Homo sapiens: one gene and its partners. The protein of the gene in region 1 purifies or fractionates together with the protein of each later gene. This does not show direct contact. Each region holds a gene or a part of one and is shown in the gene's direction. Other genes may lie near its edges. The genes, in order: SRSF4, HP1BP3 and YTHDC1.

Region 1 (8,498 bases):
CTGCAATCCCAGCTGAAGTGTGAAGATTACTTCAGGCCAGGAGTTTGAGACCAGCCTGACCCCATCTCTAAGAAAAAAATTTTTTTAATTAGCCACGCGTGGTGACACTCGCCTATAGTCCTAGCTACTTCAGAGGATGAGGCAGGAGGATCACTTCAGCCTAGGATTTCAAGGCTACAGTGAGCTATGATTGTGACACTGCACTCCAGTCTGGGTAACAGCAAGACCCCCATCTCTAATAAAATAAGTACAATGCTGACTTTTTTTGCTTTTTGATGAATAGGGAAAAAATATTTTTTTAATGTCATAATTGGTGTTGAAGACATGGTCCAGTAAGAAGCAATTATGAAAAATAATAAACAATCTAGCATGGATCAAGCCTTATGAAGAATCTAGAAATTTAACAACATAAACCAGAAACAACGACTATTAGATTTTACACTAAAAATTCGAAATCAATGAGTAGGAATTCAAAGGCTCTGGAAGGAAGAAGTGAGCAACCCAAAAGGAAGATGGAGCGATAAGAGGAAAGAGCCTTTCAGGACCCTAAATACCTGGGTGGTTTTTTTAAGGAACTGTTCATTCTTACAGTTATGCTGCCAAACCATGATATGCATGAAATGTCATTGAAAGTCAAGGTTGAAATGAAGTCATTTTAGAGTTTCAAAGACAGGTATGACAGTCACCAAACAGCACACAATATGACCTCCTGGCATCATTGAGGAATCATTACAGAGGAAAACGACTTCTGGGAAGAAGACCAATGGTAAAGATGTATTTCAAGCAAAAATTGCCTGTATGGCAAAAACGCTGGAGAGTCTGAAAGGAAGGAGTGAGTACAAAAGAAAAAGCATAACTTAGCTACGTATGTAAGCTTATAGTCCCCTAGCAGAAGGGCAGTGGATCTCCCTACTGGGAAGCATGTTTGAACATATCTAGATTGTGATTAGTAATTGAAACTCAGAGGCCGGGCGCGGTGGCCTGTAATCCCAGCACTTTGGGAGGCCGAGGCGGGCAGATGACGAGGTCAGGAGATCGAGACCATCCTGGTTAAGATGGTGAAACCCCGTCTCTACTAAAAATGAAAATAAAAATTAAAAAAAAGTAGCCGGGCATGGTGGCAGGCACCTGTAGTCCCAGCTACTCGAGAGGCTGAGGCAGGAGAATGGCGTGAACCTGGGAGGTGGAGCTTGCAGTGAGCCGAGATCGTGCCACTGCACTCCAGCCTGGGCGACAGCGAGACTCTGTCTCAAAAAAAAAAGTAATTGAAACTCAGAAACAGATTTTGGATGCTTTAGATAGGTCTTTGAAGAATTGCTGGAGTTCAGATTTGTAGAAGTGAGATGTATCAGTAGATATGTTAGGCTGAAGGGTTGTAAGTTAAGTTTAGAATTAAGGCATAAAATGCTTGTCTAGACCGGTCACGGTGGCTCACACCTGTAATCCCATCACCTTGGGAGGCCGAGGTAGGTGGATCACTTGAAGTCAGGGGTTTGAGACCAGCCTGGCCAACATGGTGAAACCCCATCTCTACTAAAAATACAAAGATTAGCTGGGTGTGGTGGTGGGCACCTGTAATCCCAGCTCCTCTAGAGGCTAAGGCAGGAGAATTGCTTGAACCTGGGAGGTGGAGGTTGCAGTGAGCAGAGATTGCATCACTGCACTCCAACCTAGGCAACAGAGCAAGACTCTGTCTCAAAAAAAAAAAAAAAAAAAAAAAATCTTGTGTAATAGGAAGATGACCAAATAAGGAAACAAATGAGTTCTTCAAAGGAGATTTAGTGTTCAGGAAAGGATTCTATGGACCCTGAGAGGGTTTGGAGAAGAGGTGTGTAAGCAAGAGTTCATTGCCTACCGTTTTATTACACCAGGCATCGCTAATGTAGATTGCCACTGTTCTAGAGAACTTTTTGAAAGATGGTTTGGGACCACAAATACAACGAAGATCTCCCAGGATCATATAGACCATTCCATTTCCCATTAAGGTCTCCTACTTTTCTACCCGCCCCATAAACTTCAAGAGTCACTGCAAGGGCCTGGCACGGTGGCTCACACCTGTAACCCCGGCACTTTGAGAGGCCAAGGCAGGCAGATCACCCAAGGTCATAAGTTCAAGACCAGCCTGACCAACATGGAGAAACCCCTGTCTCTACTAAAAATACAAAGTTAGCCGGGCGTCGTGGCACATGCCTGTAATCCTGGCTACTCGGGAGGCTGAGGCAAGAGAATCACTTGAACCTCAGAGGCATAGGTTGCGGTGAGCCGAGATCCTGCCATTGCACTCCAGCCTGGGCAACAAGAGCAAAACTTCGTCTCAAAAAAAAAAAAAAACAAAAAGAGTTACTGTAGGGAAGGGAGGGGCAGGAATCCTAGATGCACGTCAAGGAAGCAACAATATTAGCAGCACTTGTTTATACCCTTTCAGCTCTGTGGTAACTTTTGTTGGCTTTGATTGTATATAGATTTTATTTTTTATAATAAGCCATTTCATGTAAAGTGTGAAAGAATTTTGAGTACACTAGTTGCCCTTTTGTCATAAAATCTTGTGGTTTTAGTCAGATCTTTATATCTTAGCTTTTCCATATTTTAGTTAATGAGTAAAACTTACCACATATTAAGATTATTTTGCCTGTCTAGTAGCTAGAAGGATAAACCCCCAGATCATTGAAATTTATAGTTTTATTTTTTAGTTCAAGTCATGAATTAAAACTCTCAAGGGAAACTTGGATTTAAACTTCAGAACCTGCGTTTCATGGAACAGTGAAATCATGAATAGCCTGAATTTTCAGGGGATGTTGTGGTCTGTTTAGTCATGCTATCTAATTATTACCAGAAAATTTTTGTTTTCGCCCTTGTTTAATGCACCATAATTTTTTTAATGTGGAGTTCAAGACTCTTCGAGTGAGGCAGGTCGTTGTTGTGTATGTCACTGCTCACTGGAGGGCATTATTAAGCCTTAGATACTGAGAAGAATTACTGCCAACCCCAGCACCTACACAGGGATTTTTCTCTTTTGACTCCTGAATTCTTGACAGATTAGGAAGTATATAGTTAGTTTAATGTTCCAGGTTGCTGGTTTCTGGTTAGATGAGCTGTTACAGTATTTTTTTCTTTTTTTTTTTTTTAAAGTTTTTAGTTTTTAATTCTCCCAAGGCTTCTCCCAAGGCTCTGTCATTCATCGTTACCGTATTCTTAATCATGAGAGGGATTATCTTCACCCACCACCAAGTGGCAGAGAAGTGCTTTATCATTTTTATGATAATGCTATAACTAATGAGTGACAAAAGAAAAAGCAAACACTTTGCCTTTAGGAACCCTACCACCTATTTGTTGTTTTTTTGTTTTTTGTTTTTTGTTTTTTTTGAGATGGAGTCTTGCTCTGTCGCCCAGGCTGGAGTGCAGTGGTACAATCTCAGCTCACTGCAACTTCCGCCTTTTGGGTTCAAGCAATTCTCCTGCCTCAGCCTCCCAAGTAGCTGGGACTACAGGCGCGTGCCACCACGCCCGGCTAATTTTTTGTATTTTTAGTAGAGACAGGGTTTCACCGTGTTAGGCAGGATGGTCTTGATCTCCTGACCTCATGATCCACCTGCCTCGGCCTCCCAAAGTGCTGGGATTACAGGTGTGAGCCACCATGCCCGGCCACCTTTTTGTTTTTAAGCCCTTCTGCCAGCCTCAGAAATAGCATCCCATTTGCACTGGCATGTACAAAGCATTAGAGTCTATGTTAAGAAAAGGAAGACATTTGGTTCTGGATTAATTTTAGGATTATCTAAGAAGAGGTTAAAACAAGTTTTGTTTAAAAGCGTGTTTGAATAACTCTCTTTATGTATAGTTAAAATTAAAGACCCACTCTTAATTTTCAAAGTAGCACATATTTATAATTGGAAATTTTTTTTTTTTTTTTTTTTTTTTTTTTTGAGACAGCGTCTGGCTCTGTCGCCCAGGCTGGAGTGCAGTGGCGCAATCTCGGCTCACTGCAAGCTCCGCCTCCTGGGTTCACGCCATTCTCCTGCCTCAGCCTCTCAAGTAGCTGGGACTACAGGAGCCCGCCACCGCTCCCGGCTAATTTTTTGTATTTTTAGTAGAGACGGGGTTTCACTGTGTTACCCAGGATGGTCTCGATCTCCTGACCTCATGATCCACCCGCCTCGGCCTCCCAAAGTGCTGGGATTACAGGCGTGAGCCACCACGCCCGGCCGGAAATTTTTTTTGAGATGGAGTCTCTGTCTGTTGCCCAGGCTGGAATGCAGTGGCACAATCGTGGCTCACCTCCCAGGTACAAGCGATTCTGCTGCCTCAGCCTCCCAAGTAGCTGGGATTACAGGTGTGCACCACCACCCCCGGCTAATTTTTGTATTTTTTGTAGAAACGGGGTTTCACCACGTTGGCCAGCCTGGTTTTGAACTCCTGACCTCAAAGTGATCTACCTCACAAAGTGCTGGGATTACAGGCGTGAGCCACCACACCTGGCCTATTATAATTTTTTTATATGGAGAAGGACCAAAATAATCCAAAGATGTAACTCTTTGCATTTTGGGTTTTTTAGTTTTACTTTTTTTCACATACAGGTATGGGCATGTGCACGCACGCACTCTGTCTCTCTTCTTTTCTTTTTTTTTTTTTTAATTAAAAAACCCACCGGCCAGTTGTGGTGGCTCACGCCTATAATCCCAACACTTTGGGAGGCCAAGGCTGGCAGATCACAAGGTCAAGAGATTGAGACCATCCTGGCCAACATGGTGAAACCCTGTCTCTACTAAAAATACAAAAATTAGCTGGGCATGATGGCGCACGCCTGTAGTCCCAGCTACTCAGGAGGCTGAGGCAGGAGAATTGCTTGAACCCAGGAAGTGGAGGTTGCAATGAGCCTAGATCGGGCCACTGCACTCCAGCCTGGTGATGGAGCAAGACTCCATCAAAAAAAAAAAAAAAAAAACCTATCTCCTGCACAGTCTCTCCCTTTTCTTATGCCTCTCCTGACTCCTTTTTTTTTTCCAAACTTGGAATCATACTATAAGTTATTTTATAATTTGCTTGTTTCACCCTAACAGCCTGATCCTTTTCCTTTGTCATTAAGTATTCTCCTACAACCTGGTTTCTAATGGCTACATAGTACTCCAACATACATATGTTATTTAATGGACATAATCAGAACCATGTTGCAAGGCATTTAGGTTATCTTTATTTTTGTACTATTTTATGCATGTATAATACTGTTGAATATCCTTTATATGAATTTTTGTATACATTTCTTTTTGCCTTAGGGCAGATTCCTGCAAGTAGACTTTGGGAGTCAAAGCATATACACATTTTAATGCTTTTGCTAGCTATTCCATTACTCGGTAAATTAATATTTACGTTTCCACCTGCGGTGTTTAAGAGCTCCTATTTTTTTTTTTCTTTTTTCTTTTTTTTTTTGAGATGGGGTCTCAATCTGTCTCCCAGGCTGCAGTGCAGTGCAGTGGCATGATCTCAGCTCACTGCAACCTCTGCCTCCCGGGTTCAAGCAGTTCTCCTGCCTCAGCCTCCCAAGTAGCTGGGATTACAGGCGCCTGCCACCACACCCCGCTAATTTTTGTATTTTTAGTAGAGACACAGTTTCACCTTGTTGGCCAGGCTGTTCTCAAACTCCTGACCTCAGGTGATCCGCCCACCTCATCCTCCCAAAGTGCTGGGATTACAGGCGTGAGCCACCGCACCCACCAAGAGTTCCTACTTTTCTGAACAGTGCCCTTTATTATAATTTTTTAAACTAATTTTTTCTAATTAAAATGTTTAGAATTATATATGAGGAAATCATTTGGCAGCCTTTAAGGCTTGTCTATTTAGCCTATCAAGCATAACAAATTCAAGAACTTTTTGGACCAGGTGCGGTGGCTCACACCTGTAATCCCAGCACTTTTGGGAAGCTGAGGTGGGCGGATCACTTGAGGTCAGGAGTTTGAGACCAGCCTGGCCAGCATGGTGAAACCCCGTCTGTACTAAAAAGACAAAAATTAGCTGGGTATGGTGGCACTTGCTGTAATCCCAGCTACTTAGGAGGCTGAGGCAGGAGAATCGCTAGAACCCGGGAGCCGAGATTGCACCATTGCACTCCAGCCTGGGCAACAGAGTGAGACTCCATCTCAAAAAAAAAAAAAAAAAAGAAAAAAAAAAAACAACTTTTTAGGCCAGGCGTGGTGGCTCACACCTGTAATCCCAGCACTTTGGGAGGCCGAGGCGGGCGGATCACGAGGTCAGGAGATCGAGACCATCCTGGCTAACATGGTGAAACCCTATCTCTACTAAAAAAAAAATACAAAAAAAATTAGCCGGGCCTGTTGGCCTGCGCCTGTAGTCCCAGCTACTTGGGAGGTTGAAGTAGGAGAATGGCGTGAACCCGGGAGGCTGAGCTTGCAGTGAGCCGAGATCGCACCACTGCACTCCAGCCTGGATGACAGAGCAAGACTCTGTCTCAAAAAAAAAAAAAAAAAAAAAAAAAGCCTTTTTGACTCATTAGAGAATAAATGTAGGTTAATTGTAGATCATTTAGATATTATGAAAGCATAAAGTGAAAAGTATCATTAAGCATCCTTTTAAGATGGGTGAGGTTTTACGTGCAATTTTGTGTCACGCTTTTTTTACTTAATTTATCTCATGTATTTTCTATTACATTAAAATCTTCCTTATTAATGGCTTCATAAAATCCATTGTATGGCAATATTATGACTTACCCAACCATTCCTCTTATATTGTCTACCTTTTTTTTGGTCTCCTAATTCTTGCTGTTATAAGTAACCCTGTGATGGGTATTATGTGCATAAAACTTTGTTTGCATTTTTATTATCCCTGAGTACATATGGATTCCATGAAATAAAATTCATGTGTCACAGCAGGAGTGAACATATTCAAGTATCTCAGTGCATATAACCAAATAACTTTCCAGAAAAGCTACACCAGTTACACTTAACACCCGCAGTGTATGAGCATGCCCGTGTGATGGGCACTTCAACAGCATGGAGTACCCCTGTTGTGTTTGCTGGCCAGGCGTGGTGGCTCACGTCTGTAATTCCAGCACTTTAGGAGGCCAAGGCGGGCGGATCACCTGAGGTCAGAAGTTCGAGACCAGCCTGACCAACATGATGAGACCCTGTCTCTACTGAAATTACAAAAATTAGCTGGGCATGGTGGTAGGCTCCTGCAATCCTAGCTACTCGGGAGGCTGAGGCAGGAGAACCGCTTGAACCCGGGAGGCGGAAGTTGCAGTGTGAGATCACACCATTCCACTCCAGCTTGGGTGACAGAGTGAGACTCTGTCTCAAAAATAAAAAATAAAAATAAAAGATGCTAATTTACCAAGTGAAAAATAATCAGGAAGTTTTTCTTGAATGAATAATAAATAGAGATAGGACTATGAATTAAGTAGCATTCTGTCATTGTTTTATTAGTAATATAACTATTACAAATGTGATCAAATTTTTTTTTATTAAAAGTCACTTTTTAAAGTCAACTTACCCCCCAAAAAAGTGTATTATTTTTTTCCCCCAATATATGGGGAATTTAATTTTTTTCTGTCATTTTGAAAAATCAATGCCAAGAGATAATACCATATTGAGATTTTTGACCAAATGTTAACAGCGTAAATTGCCCTGGTTCAAGACCTCCACTCCTTGGTTCTTGGTCCCTTCAGTTTGTGGTATGAATAAACATCATTTGTAATTATTTGACTAAGTCATTTAAAATCCCTGTTCTTCAGTTTAATATACTGTTTTGCTCCTCCTTTCTCATTGAGGTACTGTATGAATTTAAGGGCCATACGAAGTATTTGTCCCTTCTTAAAAGATAGGCACAGGATATAGACTCGGTAATAAAATGTGGTTTGGGTTTCTAGTATTTTTTTATGCTTCCAGGTACCCAGAACCGCAAATTTTACTTTGAGCTCCTCAGAAGAAAGGTGCTCCAGGCATCTGAGAGAATACCGTTGGGGTGATACTTACAAATTTGTAAGCTAACACTGAAATCTTAAAACTTCCGAAAATATTAATGCATTTGTATGACTTATTTTTCAACTGAGTATGTCAAAGTACTTTATGAACAAGTGTTGTCCCTAGTTTGTACTGATGGGGAAACTGAGGCATGGGGTGATAAGGTGACTGGCCCAAGGTTACAAAATGAGTTATTGACAACTCCGGAAATAGAAGATTTTTTAAATTCCCATACTAGATACATGTGGGCATTGACATTCAAAGCTTCCCTCATGCTATTTCCTTTAGTCCTGTCCTTTGGGGATTGCCTCTGAGGGTGAGAGGGTAGTTCAGGTTTCCGGGCTTGTTCAGCCTTTAGTCTCTGTAGAGGCTTCCAGCAAGCTGACAAGTTACTGCCAAAAGTGAGACAGATGGTATTTTTTATGATGTTGTCCTTAGTTGGAGACTGCTAGTGATTCTCCTCCTCAGGCTACTCTTTGAAAAGCTGTAAGGTGGTATCAGCTTTATCGTGGTTGGCTGAGGAAGGATTTG
Region 2 (7,000 bases), 8.4 Mb from region 1:
TTTTTTATTTTTTTTATTTTTATTTTTTTTTGGAGTTCTCTGAAGTCCCTGCATAACCAGTGCCTGGGGTTCTGTGTTTTATAGTAGCTACTCAGAGACATGCTGTGAAGGAAAGGCACAAATAGCAGCAGACCTCCATGTTCCCCTCATATTTCTACTCTTGCTTCAGTCATTCCTCTTGGAGAATACATGAGTTTTTAAATTACTTATTCTCTGAGATTTGCCTGTTGAATTATAAAATGGCTAGTTTCTTAATTATGAGTCTCATGAATATTGCAAAGTAGAATAATTAAACAATTGGGGATGAAATGAGTTTTCCTTTCTATGTAATTTCCTGGTCTATTTTTCTAATAATAGATAAATAACCACCTGACCAGGAAACTTGAGTGACATAAAGAATGTAAGAAAACTGCATTAGTGGTCATTCATTTTCATTTTAGAATTCATTTGTTAATTGGAGACTTTGGCTGGTCCGTTTAATAAGATAAGCTTTTACCTTTTATTGACTCAGATTGGAATACATCTGCTTATGCAATTCTGCTCACCTGATTTTTTAGAACCAGACATAAGTTCAGAGGAATCTGTCTCCACTGTAGAAGAACAAGAGAATGAAACTCCACCTGCTACTTCGAGTGAGGCAGAGCAGCCAAAGGGGGAACCTGAGAATGAAGAGAAGGAAGAAAATAAGTCTTCTGAGGAAACCAAAAAGGAGTAAGGAGTTATGTCTTCTTGCTATTTATATTTGAAGAATGTGTAAAAGGACTTTAGATTAGATTGTTTTAAAGTGTTATAACATTGGTTTATGCTAGGTATTTGCTATTTGGATTTAATTTTTAGAATTACCATTTGAAATAGGTTTATTATATAGTTGTTTGACCTGTTAGAATATGCTGTAGTTAGCAGAACACAATGGTTTGAATAATCCAAAAGTCTTTGTCATTGGCTTTGGAATGTGTTTTTGAGCTTGTAATTTATTGTGGGAGTATCTGATATTTTAAGCATTGGCAAGACTTCAATAAGAAATGAAACATAACTATAAAAATCTGACCTAGAAGACATTTCACTATTTTATTCCTACTTCTGTGCCAGGAGTGGGTTGTTTTTGTGTGCTTATGTTAGAAGGCATTGATTTGTATCAAGCCATTGGTAGTGTGACCTAAAAGTCTATATATGTTTGATGAAATATTCAGTTGAAGAATTGGCTTTGAGAATCTGAAAGTAAAATTTGCTATTGATGTGTATCTATATAAAGTGATGGCAGTTACTTTTTAATTTTTAATTTTTTTTTTTTTTTTTTTGCAGGAGAGCTGATAGTATTCATTCCACTCTTTTCATAATTGGTCAGAACAGTTAGAAATTGCTTTTAACTATAGTCATGCATTGCTTAACAATGGGTATACATTCTGAGAGATACATCTTTAGGCGATTTCATCATCGTGCCAACATCATAAAGTGTACTTACACAAACCTACGTGGTACAGCCTACTACATACCTAGGCTTTATGGGATAGTCTGTTGCTTCTAGGCTACAAACCTGTACAGCATGTTACTGTACTAAATACTGTAGGCAGTTATAACACAACGGTAAGTATTTGTGTATTTAAACATAGAAAAGGTACAGTAAAAATATAATATAAAAGATAAAAAATGGTATACCTGTGTAGGACACCTACCATGAATGGACCTTAAAGGATTGGAAGTTGTTTGGGTGAGTGAGTGAGTGGTAAGTGAATGCAAAGGCCTAGGACTACTGTGTGCAACTTTTAAAACTAAAAAGTTTTTATTTTTAGCAACTTTTAAAACTAAAAAGTTTTTATTTTTAAAAACTTTTAAAACTTTACCAAAAACAAAGACACAAGCCGGACGCAATGGTGCACAGCTGTAGCCCTAGCTACTTAGGAAGCTGAGGTGGGGGGATTGCTTGAGTCCTGAAATTTGAATCTAGATTGGGCAACGTTGTGAGACCTCATATTTATAAAAAAACAAAACTAAGACACATACACACACCTTAACCTAGGCCTGCACAAGGTCAGGGTCATCAATATCACTGTCTTCCACCTCCAGATCTTGTCCCACTCAAGGCCTTCAGGGGCAGCAACACACATGGACCTGTCATTTCCTATGATAACAGTGCTGTCTTTTGGAATACCTTCTGAAGGACCTGCTTGAGGCTGTTTTACAGTTAACTTTTTTTTTGTAGGTAGAAAACATATACTCTAATGATAAAAAGTATAGTATAGTAAACACATAAACTAGTAGCATAGCTGTTTATTATCAGGTATTATGTATAATTGTAATGTGCTTTTTTTTTTTTTTTGAGATGGAGTCTTACTCTGTCACCCAGGTTGGAGTGTGGAGTGCAGTGGCGCGATCTGGGCTCACTGCAACCTCCACCTCCCAGGTTCAAGCGATTCTCCTGCCTCAACCTGCCAAGTAGCTGGGACTACAGGCGTGCACCTCCACACCTAGCTAATTTTTGTATTTTCAGGAGAGACGGGGGTTTCACCATGTTGGCCAGGATGGTCTCAATCTTTTGACCTTGTGATCCGCCCACCTTGGCCTCCCAAAGTGCTGGGATTACAGGCATGAGTCACCGCGCCCAGCCAATATGCTATATTTTTGTATGACTGGCAGCACTGTAGGTTTGTTTACACCAATGTCACCACAAACAAGTGAGTAACGTGCTGCGCTGTGATATTACCACAGCTATCATGTTAACCAGGTAATAGGAGGTTTTCAGTTCCATTATAATCTTAAGGGACCACCATTGTATATGTGGTCTGTTGACCAAATATTGTTACACAGCACATGACCATAAAAGAATAACTTAGTAATAACTATACCTTCTAGCTATAATCTTCAGGGTATTCTTTATCTGAGTTTCATAAGTATAGCTAAGGTCTGTGGAATTTATAGCAACTATCGTGTGTGGGTGTGGGTGTGTTTGTGTGTGTGTGTGTGTGTTTAATGGAGATGGCGTCTCACTATGTTGGCTAGGTTGGGCTTGAACTCCTGGCCTCAAGCTGTCCTCCCTCCTCAGCCTCCTAAATTGCTGGGATTACAGGCATGAGCCACTGCACCCAGCCTATCGTCTGTTGTTAAATGTTCTAATGCACCTATTAGGTGCACAGAGTACTGTTATATACTCAGAATAAAATTTACATAATGCTTTAAATCTCACAAAATTGTTTTGATAAACATACTCTTATAATTCTTGCAACACCTTGGGAAATAGTTGGTTCTATATTACTGTTTTATAGCTGAGGAGAAAGACTCACATCATTTACTAAGATCATATAGCTAGCTAGTAAATGTTTGAGTGAAAATACAAACAAAGGTTTTCTGACTTTAAGAGCTTGAGTTTTTTCCACTATACCATATTGCATCTGTTGTAATTGTTAACTAATGTGCATTTTAAAATTCTCATTTGTCTTATGTACTGAGCCCTTATACCAGTGCTAATTTATGTGACTCCTTTCTCCTGCAGCTAAGAGAAAAATACCTTTTTAATTCATTTATAGTACCCAGTTTTTAAAGAAGATTTATTTTGTAAAATTTTGCTTATGGTACATGTCATCTTAGCCTGTAAATAAATTAAAGCATTAATTTTTATCCCTCCCTGGTCTTTTCCTCCTTCTGACTTTATACGTCTTTCTAGAGAGCTTATCTTCTATAATAACAATTCTTTGTTTTAAAGTGAGAAAGATCAGTCTAAAGAAAAGGAGAAGAAAGTGAAAAAAACAATTCCTTCCTGGGCTACCCTTTCTGCCAGCCAGCTAGCCAGGGCCCAGAAACAAACACCGATGGCTTCTTCCCCACGTCCCAAGATGGATGCAATCTTAACTGAGGCCATTAAGGCAAGTTTTTATTTCAAGCAATTCATCTTAGATTTATTATGTTCATTTTTTTCTTATTTGAAAATGGCATATATCTGTCTAGACATCATAAATCTTGTTCTGCTTCCTAAAGGAGTTTTAAAGAGAGGAAAGTCATTATAAGTTCATGTTTTTCTAATATAATCACATTTGGTGAACACTGTTAATTTTTTTAAAAAAATTATATTTAATATAGCAAATATTTTAACTTTAGAATTTTTAAATGCAGTTTATCGATTAAGTACAGTTTTTATTTGAAGGCTGAAAATGTTAATTCATTGAACAAACATTTAAGGACTACCTTCCTCTGTTGGGCGCCCCTGCTAGTGGTGAATTAACTAAGGCTAGCAAAGTCCTTGCCCTTATAAATCTAATTGTGACTCAGTAACTGAAAAATATTGAGAATTTTTGTTTAAAAAATATCTCTAGGTTCATTTCTAAAGCTAAGTGATCTTGGTAGTGGTTATCTTTCACACCTGAACCCTGTTAATAAACACTGCTTTATTACCTAGACATTCCAAAATGCTTACAAAAATTATCCTCCTTACATAGATTTATGATTTCATTGACTTTCATTAGATGTAGTTTTCCTATTTTAATTTTTAAAGGTTATCTTCTAATTTGACATTGCCTTTATTGTATAAGTCTTTTCATTTAATTTTGCCTTGTTTAGTTCATATGATCAGATGATAAGAGGAGTTAGAACAGACCCATCTTTCAGGGACCCTGTTGTTAGGATCTGAGGCAGGACTGGGGAGACAGGGATACAGATGATTTTAACCAGAAAAGGGGGGATGTGTACGAAAAGGAGCAGCCTGGTTGTCATTCTCAGAATATGAGAAGATAGCACTAACACATAAACTGGAAAAAGGGTTTGCCTTCAGACTTCTCCCTTTACTCCTTCAAGACTTCTTATGCTCTCACCTCATTAAGAAAACTTTATTGGTCTAGATTACCTCACTGTAGTGAAATCTCTGTTCTTTGTATAGCCTTTCTTCAAGGATTTCACTTGATGACCACTCAGCCTGGGTTTGAAGGAGCAGCATCATAGTGAGGATGGAAAAAGGGCTGAAACTTTAAAATAGTGAAATAAAAAATTAAAACAATATCAATTTGGCTTAAAGAATGGTTTGAATATAATTGTGCATATTTATGGAGATGATTGATTTTATATAGATAATGTGTATTCCATGCAATATGACAAATTATTGTTTCAGACCATGGATACCATTTTCTGTATTGAACAGGAATCATGATGTCTACTACCATCTCACTGTCGGATTGGTGGAGCAAAAGATTATTTGTTTCAGCATTAGTGTTCTTTTCTGCTTGATTTTCTTTGCTCTGTGTTTTCTTTTAAGATCAGGAGTAAACCTCAGTAGGTCATTAATAGTTCAGAGACATAGACTTGAATTACATGACCCATATTAATACAACTTGTTTCGTGTTGTGCAATCTTTTCTGGACCATCTACCTGTGAGTTATTTTTCTTTGTTGTCAAAATGTATAAAAACATTCAACGAAGTTCTTATCCAATGAGAATGAATAAGTGCTACATTGATTTAATAGACACTGTGGCAGTACAAAATTGATGGACTAGCTCATTAGATAAATGACAGATGCTACTTTTGTGTGTTTCAAAATTTAAAGTATTTGATTTCAAGTCAGTGACCAGTTGGAAAACAAAATTTTAAGCATTTGAAAAAAATTAAGTATTTGCTGCCTTTGTGACATAATGAGCTACTTAATTCTTCCAGGTGCATTAGTCAAATGGAGTATAAGTAAAATAGGATGGAAATGGAAGAGGGCACATTAAATTCAAATAGAACACCTTCACTATTACCCAAAACTCTCCTTCAGCACTTTGCCATCTGTAAACCCATTTTTATGCCACTTATTCAGATTATCTTTGATTCTTCTTTCTGCTGACATTCATACAGAGCCTTCAGGGAAATGTCCTGGCATGCTCATTCCTTAAGCTCGTGCCTTAAAATGGGACAGATCTGTGATCCTGTAAGTGATAGGTTTGTTCTGCTTTTCTCATTTTGATGCCAAAGATTCATCTTCTAAATACAGAATGGAATTAAAATGGAAAGAGGTTCTTCATTATACATAGAATGTTGTTCGTGTTCAGTATGGTCTCTTAGGCTGTTTTGAACAATTTAAAATTGTAGTAGAAATATTTAGTAATTCTGTTACTTCTCTGTAGTCATTATGAACTGAAGTCTTCTGAAGTTCATTCTTCCCTACCGTTTTTGTCATCTATCATCAAATTCACTTCCAAAATAATTTATTTTGAAAATATATGTCAGGCTCTATCTAATAAAAAAAAACAACTAGTTTAATAAATCTTTTCTAGGCATGCTTCCAGAAGAGTGGTGCATCAGTGGTTGCTATTCGAAAATACATCATCCATAAGTATCCTTCTCTGGAGCTGGAGAGAAGGGGTTATCTCCTTAAACAAGCACTGAAAAGAGAATTAAATAGAGGAGTCATCAAACAGGTATTACACAATTGTTAGTAGTAAGATCATTTCATTGTGTATTAGCTTTAAGTCTACAGTTAGTAACATTTAGGCTTTTTGTGCCTTTTTTGTTAAAAATAAGTTTCATGATGATGAAATTCCTTAAGTTTAACCTAGTTGAATTATCTGAGGCTAGGTTTCGAAAATGCTGGTGCCATTAAGATAGTGTAACTTTTTTCTAGCTTACTTTGCTCTTAATTGGATATTTTTTGGGGGGCTGCTTGTGCTTGAAATCATGTAGCACTGAACATGAAAAAGAGGTAAGGAATCCTACTACTGAAACAGCAAAAATGAGGCTAGGGATGGTGGCCTACACCTGTAGTCCCAGCACCTTGGGAGGCTTAGTTGGGAGGATCACTTGAGCCCAGGAGTTCGAGACCAGCCTGGGCAACATAGCAAGACCCCTTCTCTACAAAAAATACAAAATCAGCAGGGTTTGGTGACACATGCCTCTAGTCCCAGGTACTTGGAAGGCAGAGGCAGGAGGACCGCTTGAGCCTGGGAGGTTGAGGCTATTGTGAGTTACGATCTCACCACTCCAGCCTCGGTGAGAGTGAGACCCTGTCTGAAAACAAAAAGGAATAACAGAAATAATAATTGC
Region 3 (8,498 bases), on another chromosome or scaffold:
ATATTTTTCCAGTTGTAAAGCTTTGGGTTCAGGGGTTCATCAGATCTCTTAAGATAGAATCAGAATTGTAATTGTGCTGAAGAATGGTAGTGGAGTTTAAAAAAATAAGGACTTAAGACAGTGTTACCTGGTGTGTAGAAAGGACACAGTTTTGAAAGAAATTGTTTTTGCTTTGCAAATTTCCCCCCCCGCTTGGAAAACTGTATTCAAGGCCACCTATATATGGCAATTAAGGCCCTGACTTTGTAGTTATTTCGTGTGTTTTTATTTGATTGAAACTGATGAAAGAAACAAGATGCCCGTACTTTTTAAACAGTATTTTTAAAATAAAACATTCTGAGGAAATTGAGGGATCAGGAGAGAGGAGCACAGACTAATAGAAGGGCTATGCAAAAACTAGACATGTAATGATACATTCTTGTTTGATTACTTCTCTTCGTTTCTGTATTGTGATTTAAAAAAAAAACTCTTGTTCTTTTTAGATGAGAAAAAGAAGGAAAGGAAGAGAGCTAGAGGCATATCTCCAATTGTTTTTGATAGAAGTGGAAGCTCTGCATCAGAGTCATATGCAGGTATTCTCATTTTGTGATCATATCTGACTTGATTCTAATGTAATCTGCTTTAGAAAGCGTGTGGAGGCTGTAGTTTAGTGTGAACTTGTTGATGTCCATTAGCACTGATTTTTGGCATGTTCAGTGTAATAATTCTAGAGAAAACTAAGCTTTTTCTTATTATTTTAATCCTGTTCTGTTACTGCTTAAGTGGAATTTTCACTTTTTTTTTCTTGGAAGATGATGATTCAGTGACTAGTTTTCTGAGTGGGAAACTGTTCAAATATACATACTTTTAAAAAAATCCAAACAACCCAAAAAGCAAAACACTCGTACACATTGAGAAGTTTTTTTTGTGTGTGTGGGTGCGCCAGGAAGAATAATTTGTCTTGAATGAGAATTTTATGTGACAAGACTGTAGAAATTTTGTCTTATCTCTATTAAAGCTCAATCTGAACAAATGTACTTTGGCTAAATACAGGTTCAGAAAAGAAGCATGAGAAATTATCATCTTCCGTTCGTGCTGTCCGAAAAGGTATCATTTAAATTTGAAATTGTTTTCATTGCATGCTGCATAGTCATTATTTTTCCTTATTGGTTCTCCATTAATAGCTGCTTTTAATGTAGTAATGTTCCGATATATTACATGAAGCAAAAAATAATATCTTAACATAGAAAGCTCTGTGTCTGCTTCTTACTGCATATTTTTTAGAATAATACCAAACATTTCAGGATATTTTAGTTTTTGGACAAAATGGGATGGGTGTGTGTGTGTATGTGTGTATGTGTTATATATAGATGTGTGTGTATATATATGTATGTATATAATGGTCTGTTATTCTTGAATCTGAGTAAGAAAATCTATAAAACTTGGTAACCATTTTCATACTTAAATATGGATTTGATATATCGGAACATCACTAGGTTAGGTTTACTTTCTTGCAATATGCTGATTGTCTTTTCTTAGCTTTGCTTTATTACATGTGGCTTAGCCTTCCAGGTTGAATGGGTGATTGTTGCGTTTTAAAAGTTTAGCTGGGTTGTGGAGGGCTAATTTCAGTTAGTACAGTTTTGACCCCTTTGTGTGATAATGGCTTGTGGTTAATCGATTTGGGTTTCTTTTTTTTTCAGATCAAACCAGTAAACTCAAATATGTGCTTCAAGATGCAAGATTTTTCCTCATAAAGAGTAACAACCATGAGAATGTGTCTCTTGCCAAAGCGAAGGTATTAGCATCAGTTCTGTTGAAACTATCCTAATATCAAAATTTTTAAATGGGAAAATAGACTTGTATTATATCAAGTAGCATAGGTATTATGATTTTCATTACGGCTTTAAAGATCTACATTCCAATGGCCACTTAGGATCTGGTTGTAGTCAGTCAGCCTACTTGTAATTTGAGTTTTCTTTTTTTTTTTTTAAGATGATTTTAGGGGTCAGAATATTAAATGTTGAAGGCTATACAGTTTAACTTTTTGCTGTAAAAGATCCTGTTTCTGTTGATTTTTGTTTCTGTACTTCCTCAGTGGCTCATTTATTGTGCTAACACTTCTAAAAGTACCTGTAGTTAACCAATTTTTGTTTTATGTTGATGCTTGATTTACACTTTGAGGTTCTTTTGAAATCATTCTTTTATGGAGAGTTTTATTTTTTAGAATTAAGATCATTGGGATTTAGAAGAAAAAGAATTAGCTTAAAGATCCACTCCAGACTTTGCAAAAAAGATATGCATAGTTGCTGTAGGATGTTGTAAGATAATAATTTTCTTTTTATGTTTGGCTACAAAAATACATTTTTGTGTTACACTAGCTGTTACAGTGTTTTGCTATTCTTGGTTTAAACTGAGTAACTACAGTTTCAACTGATTTTCAGAAACTTAAAACTAAAGTTAGACATTTCTCTAATGATATTTCTGTCAGTATTCTATATTTCTACCTTAAGGACTACCCCTAAAACTTTACAAACAGAAGGAAACAGTACACCAAATAGCCTTATTCTGTTCTCTAGCTTAAGTGGATTTAGGCAGAAGTACACTTGGCCCTCGGTATCCACAGGGTTCCTCATCTTTCGATTTAACTAACTGGATTGAAATATTAGGGGAAAAAGGAATGAGAAATAATAAAACAGAAAATACAAACTTAAACACAGTATAACAACTATTCACATAGCATTTACATTGTATTAGGTATAAGTATTCTAGAGGTGATTTAAAGTATATGGGAGTATATGCATGGGTTATACGCAAATACTGTGCCATTTTATATAAGGGACTTGAGCATCCTCAGATTTTGGTATCTGCATGGGTCCTGGAACCAGTCCCCAGTGGAGACTGAGGAACAACTGTAAGCACTTAGTTTGAATGAGATGTCATTTGTATGAGCAGATGGTGTGAGCTGAATGATAGCATCTGCCTTATTATTCCATTTCTTTTTATCTGTTATGAATGAAGAATTGGTTAAAATGCTTTAGAAATTAACAAATATCTTCCAGCTGTAGGTAAAACGTAGGCCTCTTCAGTCAAACTATTGATACATAAAAATTTGAACTTAAAAACTGCTTTAAAAAACGAACTTAAATAGAAAAATGCTAGATTCTTGACTAATAGAGTAATTTTAAATTATTTGATCAGGTACGGTTTTGCAAGAAGACTAACTTCTAAGTGGCGATTCACCTTCAAACAGGATGTATTTACCACAGTAAATGGTTGTAATATTAAAATAATTGTAGTGATTGGTTTTACTATATAGAATTCTAGTCCCTTAGATTTGAACCTCATCTCCATCTATTTACTACTTGCTTTAATGGTTTTGTAAAATTGGTAATTGTCTCCATTTTTTCCCTTAGGTTTTTATAAATTATTACTACGTTATTCTGACAGCTGATAAATAAAACCTTTCTTCATTATAGCTTACTTAAATTGAAAGCACACCAAAATATGTAGTTTTTTTTCAAACATAACTGGAAACACAAAAGAGTTGTAGTTAATTTCACTTTGTGGTCTTTATGTTATTTATGTAGGGTGTATGGTCCACGCTCCCTGTAAATGAGAAGAAATTAAATCTTGCATTTAGATCTGCAAGGAGTGTTATCTTAATATTTTCTGTCAGAGAGAGTGGAAAATTTCAAGGTAAGAATAAAAATAATTTGGACATATAAAAACATTAATTATATTAGCATCTACATATTATATTATGATATGATTCTCTTAGGGTTTGCAAGACTTTCTTCAGAATCACATCACGGAGGATCTCCTATACACTGGGTGCTTCCAGCAGGAATGAGTGCTAAAATGCTGGGAGGTGTCTTTAAAATTGACTGGATTTGCAGGTAAATTATACACTTCAGTATAGATAACTGAAATTTTGAATACACTACCAGTTTAGAATAATGTGTTAAAGTGAAAAAGTCACTGTATACTTATCTTACCTTGTTCAGTAACTACCTTTATCTAATGTGGGACACAACAAAGGCGTATTTAGTCTAAAGTTACATGTATTTGATTTGTTTTGTATATTAGTAATAAAGCAGTAAATGAATTGGACAGTTGCTTGAAATGTTGTCTGGCGTATCTGTATAATTTTAGTGATTTAACATGTCACTTAAGTTATTGAGGAATGGGAAATAAGTACTATGACTTGGCTAACAATTTCGGAGGTAACTAGTTTAGTCGTGGACAGTATTTTTTAAGGAGGTTAGCAAATGATGTTTAGTTGCCATTGTGATCTTCTGAAACTGAGTTAAGATTTAACTGTATTTATTAGAAAAATAATCAGGCTTATTTTGAACACTGAGTTGTCACTATTTTTAGGTCCTTACTGCACACTGAAGTATTGTACACAAGAAGCTCATTATTTAAGTGATCTTTACGTGGCATACACAAATGTATTACCTGTAAAATTAATTTTAGTTAAAAAGTGTCTGAAAGGAGATGGTTACTTTGTGAGTTTTAAGTTGTTTTTGGGTATTAGATCTTGATGAGCCTGAAGGGGTCGGATGAAAAAGAAGAAAAATGCTATGCATATGATGGAAATCAGCCTAAGCCAAGAAGAGCATGGAAACAAACTATGGGGTTGCAGGGTTGTGGGGAGCAGTGGGAGGGCATATGGATGTGTGAGTGGGATAGGGAGCTACCTTTTTTTATGAAGGAGATGGTTAGGAAAAGAGAAGAACAGAGGGCAAAGATGGATAAGAATGAATGAATGTGAGTCAGCCTAAATGTTTATTGTAGGATAGTGAGGAGCTGTGAAGATAGAGGGAGTGATATATTACAAATAGCATACAGTCACTTACTGTGTAGTGACATACCCATCAACAAAGAATCTTGTCCCATAAGACTGTAGGACTCGTAAGAGGTACCTATAATACCATATTTTACTATACCTTTTCTATGTTTAGATACACAAGTATTTTCCATTGTGTTACATTTACCTACACTATTCAATACAGTAACATGCTGTGCAGATTTGTAGGCTAGGAGAAACAGGTCATACCATATATCCTAGGTATGTAGTAGGCTATACCATTTAGGTTTGTGTAAGTGCATTCTGTGATGTTCACACAATGAAATCACCTAATGAGTGTATCCCTGTCATTAAGTGACACATAACTGTATTAGGTTGATAATAGCGTAGCAAAAAGCTATGTGCAGAAAAAATACTCATCCCATTATTACTTTCTGTGGGAAAGAGTTGGAAATCATCTAAATTCTTTGAAATAGAAAATTAGTTAAATTATAGTTTGTCTCTTAAATATATGTGGAAGTAATTGTGCACATATCAACATGGAAAGGTATAACAAATGAAAAAATACATAATTATGGTATTGGAATGCAGTGTTAGGTGGTGAGACTGTTAGTGCTTTCTCCCACTTCCTCTCTGTTGCCCCCAGGGGTTTTAAAATATAAACTTGGTTTTTTTGAAATCAAAATTATAATTAAGTTATAATTAAAGTTGAAAATCTGGTGACAATTTGTAGGAAAGGGAGTGATTATTTTTATTTTGTGTGTGTATGTGACTGCTCTGTAAAGGCCAGAGGAAACGTTGTAATGTAACATATTTGCAGGTGTTGCTTTCTTGGGAACAGGAGAGAAAATAATTGCCCATTTTTATGTGGGTTGCAGCAGATTTTGTTTCAAATGTTATTTGTTCTGTTAACCTTCATTTTTACATTACTGATAAGGAAATTCTTAATTTTAAGATGAATTTAATTTTTCATGGATTATTCATTCTTCATATTCCTCTTCATTGACTTATTGACTATTCTACTAATTTGTTTGAAATGTATCAAGCAACCGAAGAGGTAGACAGACTCAATTTGTCTATCCTACTAACGTGAGGTGTAAAATTGTGGGCAGTAAAGTGCTTTTATTATTTTAAAGTAAGTTTATGGGTTTACCTAGAAATAGTATTTTTACATAATAAAACTATAGTTTTAATGTTTTAATACTCAAGTTCTATTCAAGTGTAATTTTACAATACTTTACAGTTCTGGAGGGCTTGTGATATTTCTAACATTGATATTTCCTTAGATAAGTCACTTGAACTCTCTTGAGTTTAAATTCTCTCTATATAGTGAGAATTACATTTGAGTCTCAGAACATTTAAATTTAATAAATAGAAATGGTCAGGACTTTGCTATCAACAGTAACTGCTGTTAATATTTTTTTCTTTTGCAGATATAATAATTATTAGATTTATATTTAAGGACCCTTTGGATATAATAATAACTAGACTTAAGCTTTTTTAGGTGTGATCCCTGGATCACTTACATCAGTAGCATCTGACTGTTAAAATGCAGAATCTTGAAACCCACCTCAAACCTGTTAAATTCTTGATGGTTCAGGTAGTTGGTAGGCACATGGAAGATTGGGACCAGATAAGTGTCATGTTTTAGCTGATAAAGAGAGGGAGGCATAAAAAGCGACTTATTAAGGTTGCCACCTGTAATTAGCTCAAAATAAGGCATGATCTATGAAATACTATTCATCCAGAGTTACATTTACTGACTAGGTGTTATATTCCTTTCATGTCCATTCCAAACAACCCATTTCTGTTTTCATTTAGAGTCTCTCCATTTTTCTTTTCTTTTCTTTTGAGACGGAGTTTCGCTCTTGTTGCCCAGGCTAGAGTGCAATGGCGCAATCTCGGCTCACCACAACTTCCGCCTCCCGGGTTCAAGCGATTCTTCTGCCTCAGCCTCCCTAGTAGCTGGGATTACAGGCATGTGCCACCACGCCCGGCTAATTTTTTATTTTTAGTAGAGACGGGGTTTCTCCATGTTGGTTAGGCTGGTCTCGAACTCCCGACCTCAGGTGATCCGCCCGCCTCAGCCTCCCAAAGTGCTGGGATTACTACAGGCATGAGCCACTGCGCCCGGCCTCCATTTTTCTTTTTAACTTTAATCAACAAACCACTGTCCAGCATATAAGAGCCTCTGCATGGCTGGGCGCAGTGGTTCATGCCTGTAATCCCAGCACTTTGGGAGGCTGAGGTGGGTGCATCACTTGAGGCCAGGAGTTCGAGACTAGCATGGCCAACATGGTGAAACCCCGTCTCTACTAAAAATGCAAAAATTAGCCAGATGTGGTGGCGCATGCCTGTAGTCCCAGCTACATGGGAGGCTGAGGCATGAGAATCCCTTGAACTCAGGAGGCGGAGGTTGCAGCAAGCCGAGATCATGCAGCTGCACTCCAGTCTGGGTAACAGAGTGAGACTGTGTCTCAAAACAAAAAACTGTGCACAGTTTTACATTCTTTGTTAAATTTGCCCTATTTGCAGAACCACTTAGGTCAGAGAGTCCCTTACATGTTCTCAAAGAACTCACAGTAAAGATAAGTTGTATCTGTATGCTTCATAACATAGCTGCTCAGAAGGTAACTGTTAGGTTGCTTGTTCTATGATTGTGATCTGAGAAGAAAGGATAAAATAAGGATGCTACATGGATCACAGACCCTGCAATTTTTCTTAATTTATTCTGAGCCCTGTTTTGCCTCAGGCTTCACAGTTTTCTGTGATGTTCTGGCTGAGATTAACTGTGTTGAAACAGTGAACAGATGTCTCTTGAATCTAGTTGGAACCAGTGCCACCAAAGAATCTCAACCCCAAATGATACATTTAGCTTGGCCTATGCTTTTACTTCTACTTGGATCGTGGGTATTTAATTGCTGATATTTAAATAACAGTGATAATCCCATTAATTTATAACCTTCTTATATTTTGGTGGCTGTAGGTTTTCATTTATGCCTTTCCTATAACTGTTTTAAACTGGCAATTAGAAGAAAAATTTAAATTATTCAACAGAATACAAAGAAAACTAGATCTCTGCCTCTGGATATTCAAGCTTTGATGTGGACTTGTTCTAGTCTTTCTACTTCTGAGAGCCTGAAAAGGGGGAAAAAAAATTCAGTATTTTTGACTCACTCTTGATGGGTGAAGTAAGGTGTATATTAGAAAAAGAAACCAAGCTTTTAAGTGATACTTAGTGGATATTTTCATTACTCACTGACCACTCTTCCATGTATATATATATCACCTCCATCACAGAATATACCACCTTGTTAATTTAACTCTAAAATACTTCTATTTCCCTGGAAAATGTCAAAGTTTTTCCTGAGGTTTAAAACAAGTTATATAAGATCTGAGCATTCAGGCCAGGTGTGGTGGCTCACAGCTGTAATCCTAGCATTTTCGGAGGCTGAGGTGAGAGGATTGCTTGAGCCCATTTATTCACAATCAGCCAAGGCAAAATAGATCCAATCTCTAAAAAATTAAATTTAAAAAAAGGTCTGAGCAGGCAATATTCACTTTCAAGAAAATTCATGTAAGGTTATGTGGCATGTTCACTGGGCAAAGTTACTTATGTTTTCCCTTTTCCATTATGCCTGTGTTCTAGCCCTTCTCTTTGTTTCAAATGTATCCCTGCCTTAGTTCTCTACATAAGGCTTTACCT

Evidence for each region.
Region 2: the proteins of SRSF4 (region 1) and HP1BP3 purify together in Homo sapiens (affinity purification with mass spectrometry; 2 studies listed by BioGRID and IntAct, with this or other methods). This does not show direct contact.
Region 3: the proteins of SRSF4 (region 1) and YTHDC1 purify together in Homo sapiens (co-immunoprecipitation; 2 studies listed by BioGRID and IntAct, with this or other methods). This does not show direct contact.

Annotation. Positions count from the first base shown.
Region 1 is NC_000001.11:29,171,117-29,179,614, reverse strand, and holds part of SRSF4 (serine/arginine-rich splicing factor 4), read left to right. Parts: intron 1-3,896; exon of another isoform or gene 3,897-8,498. UniProt on the Homo sapiens protein: Plays a role in alternative splice site selection during pre-mRNA splicing. Represses the splicing of MAPT/Tau exon 10.
Region 2 is NC_000001.11:20,770,308-20,777,307, reverse strand, and holds part of HP1BP3 (heterochromatin protein 1-binding protein 3), read left to right. Parts: intron 1-557; coding exon 558-711; intron 712-3,697; coding exon 3,698-3,857; intron 3,858-6,234; coding exon 6,235-6,378; intron 6,379-7,000. UniProt on the Homo sapiens protein: Component of heterochromatin that maintains heterochromatin integrity during G1/S progression and regulates the duration of G1 phase to critically influence cell proliferative capacity.
Region 3 is NC_000004.12:68,325,382-68,333,879, reverse strand, and holds part of YTHDC1 (YTH domain-containing protein 1), read left to right. Parts: intron 1-482; coding exon 483-572; intron 573-1,032; coding exon 1,033-1,086; intron 1,087-1,682; coding exon 1,683-1,777; intron 1,778-3,569; coding exon 3,570-3,678; intron 3,679-3,760; coding exon 3,761-3,878; intron 3,879-8,498. UniProt on the Homo sapiens protein: Regulator of alternative splicing that specifically recognizes and binds N6-methyladenosine (m6A)-containing RNAs.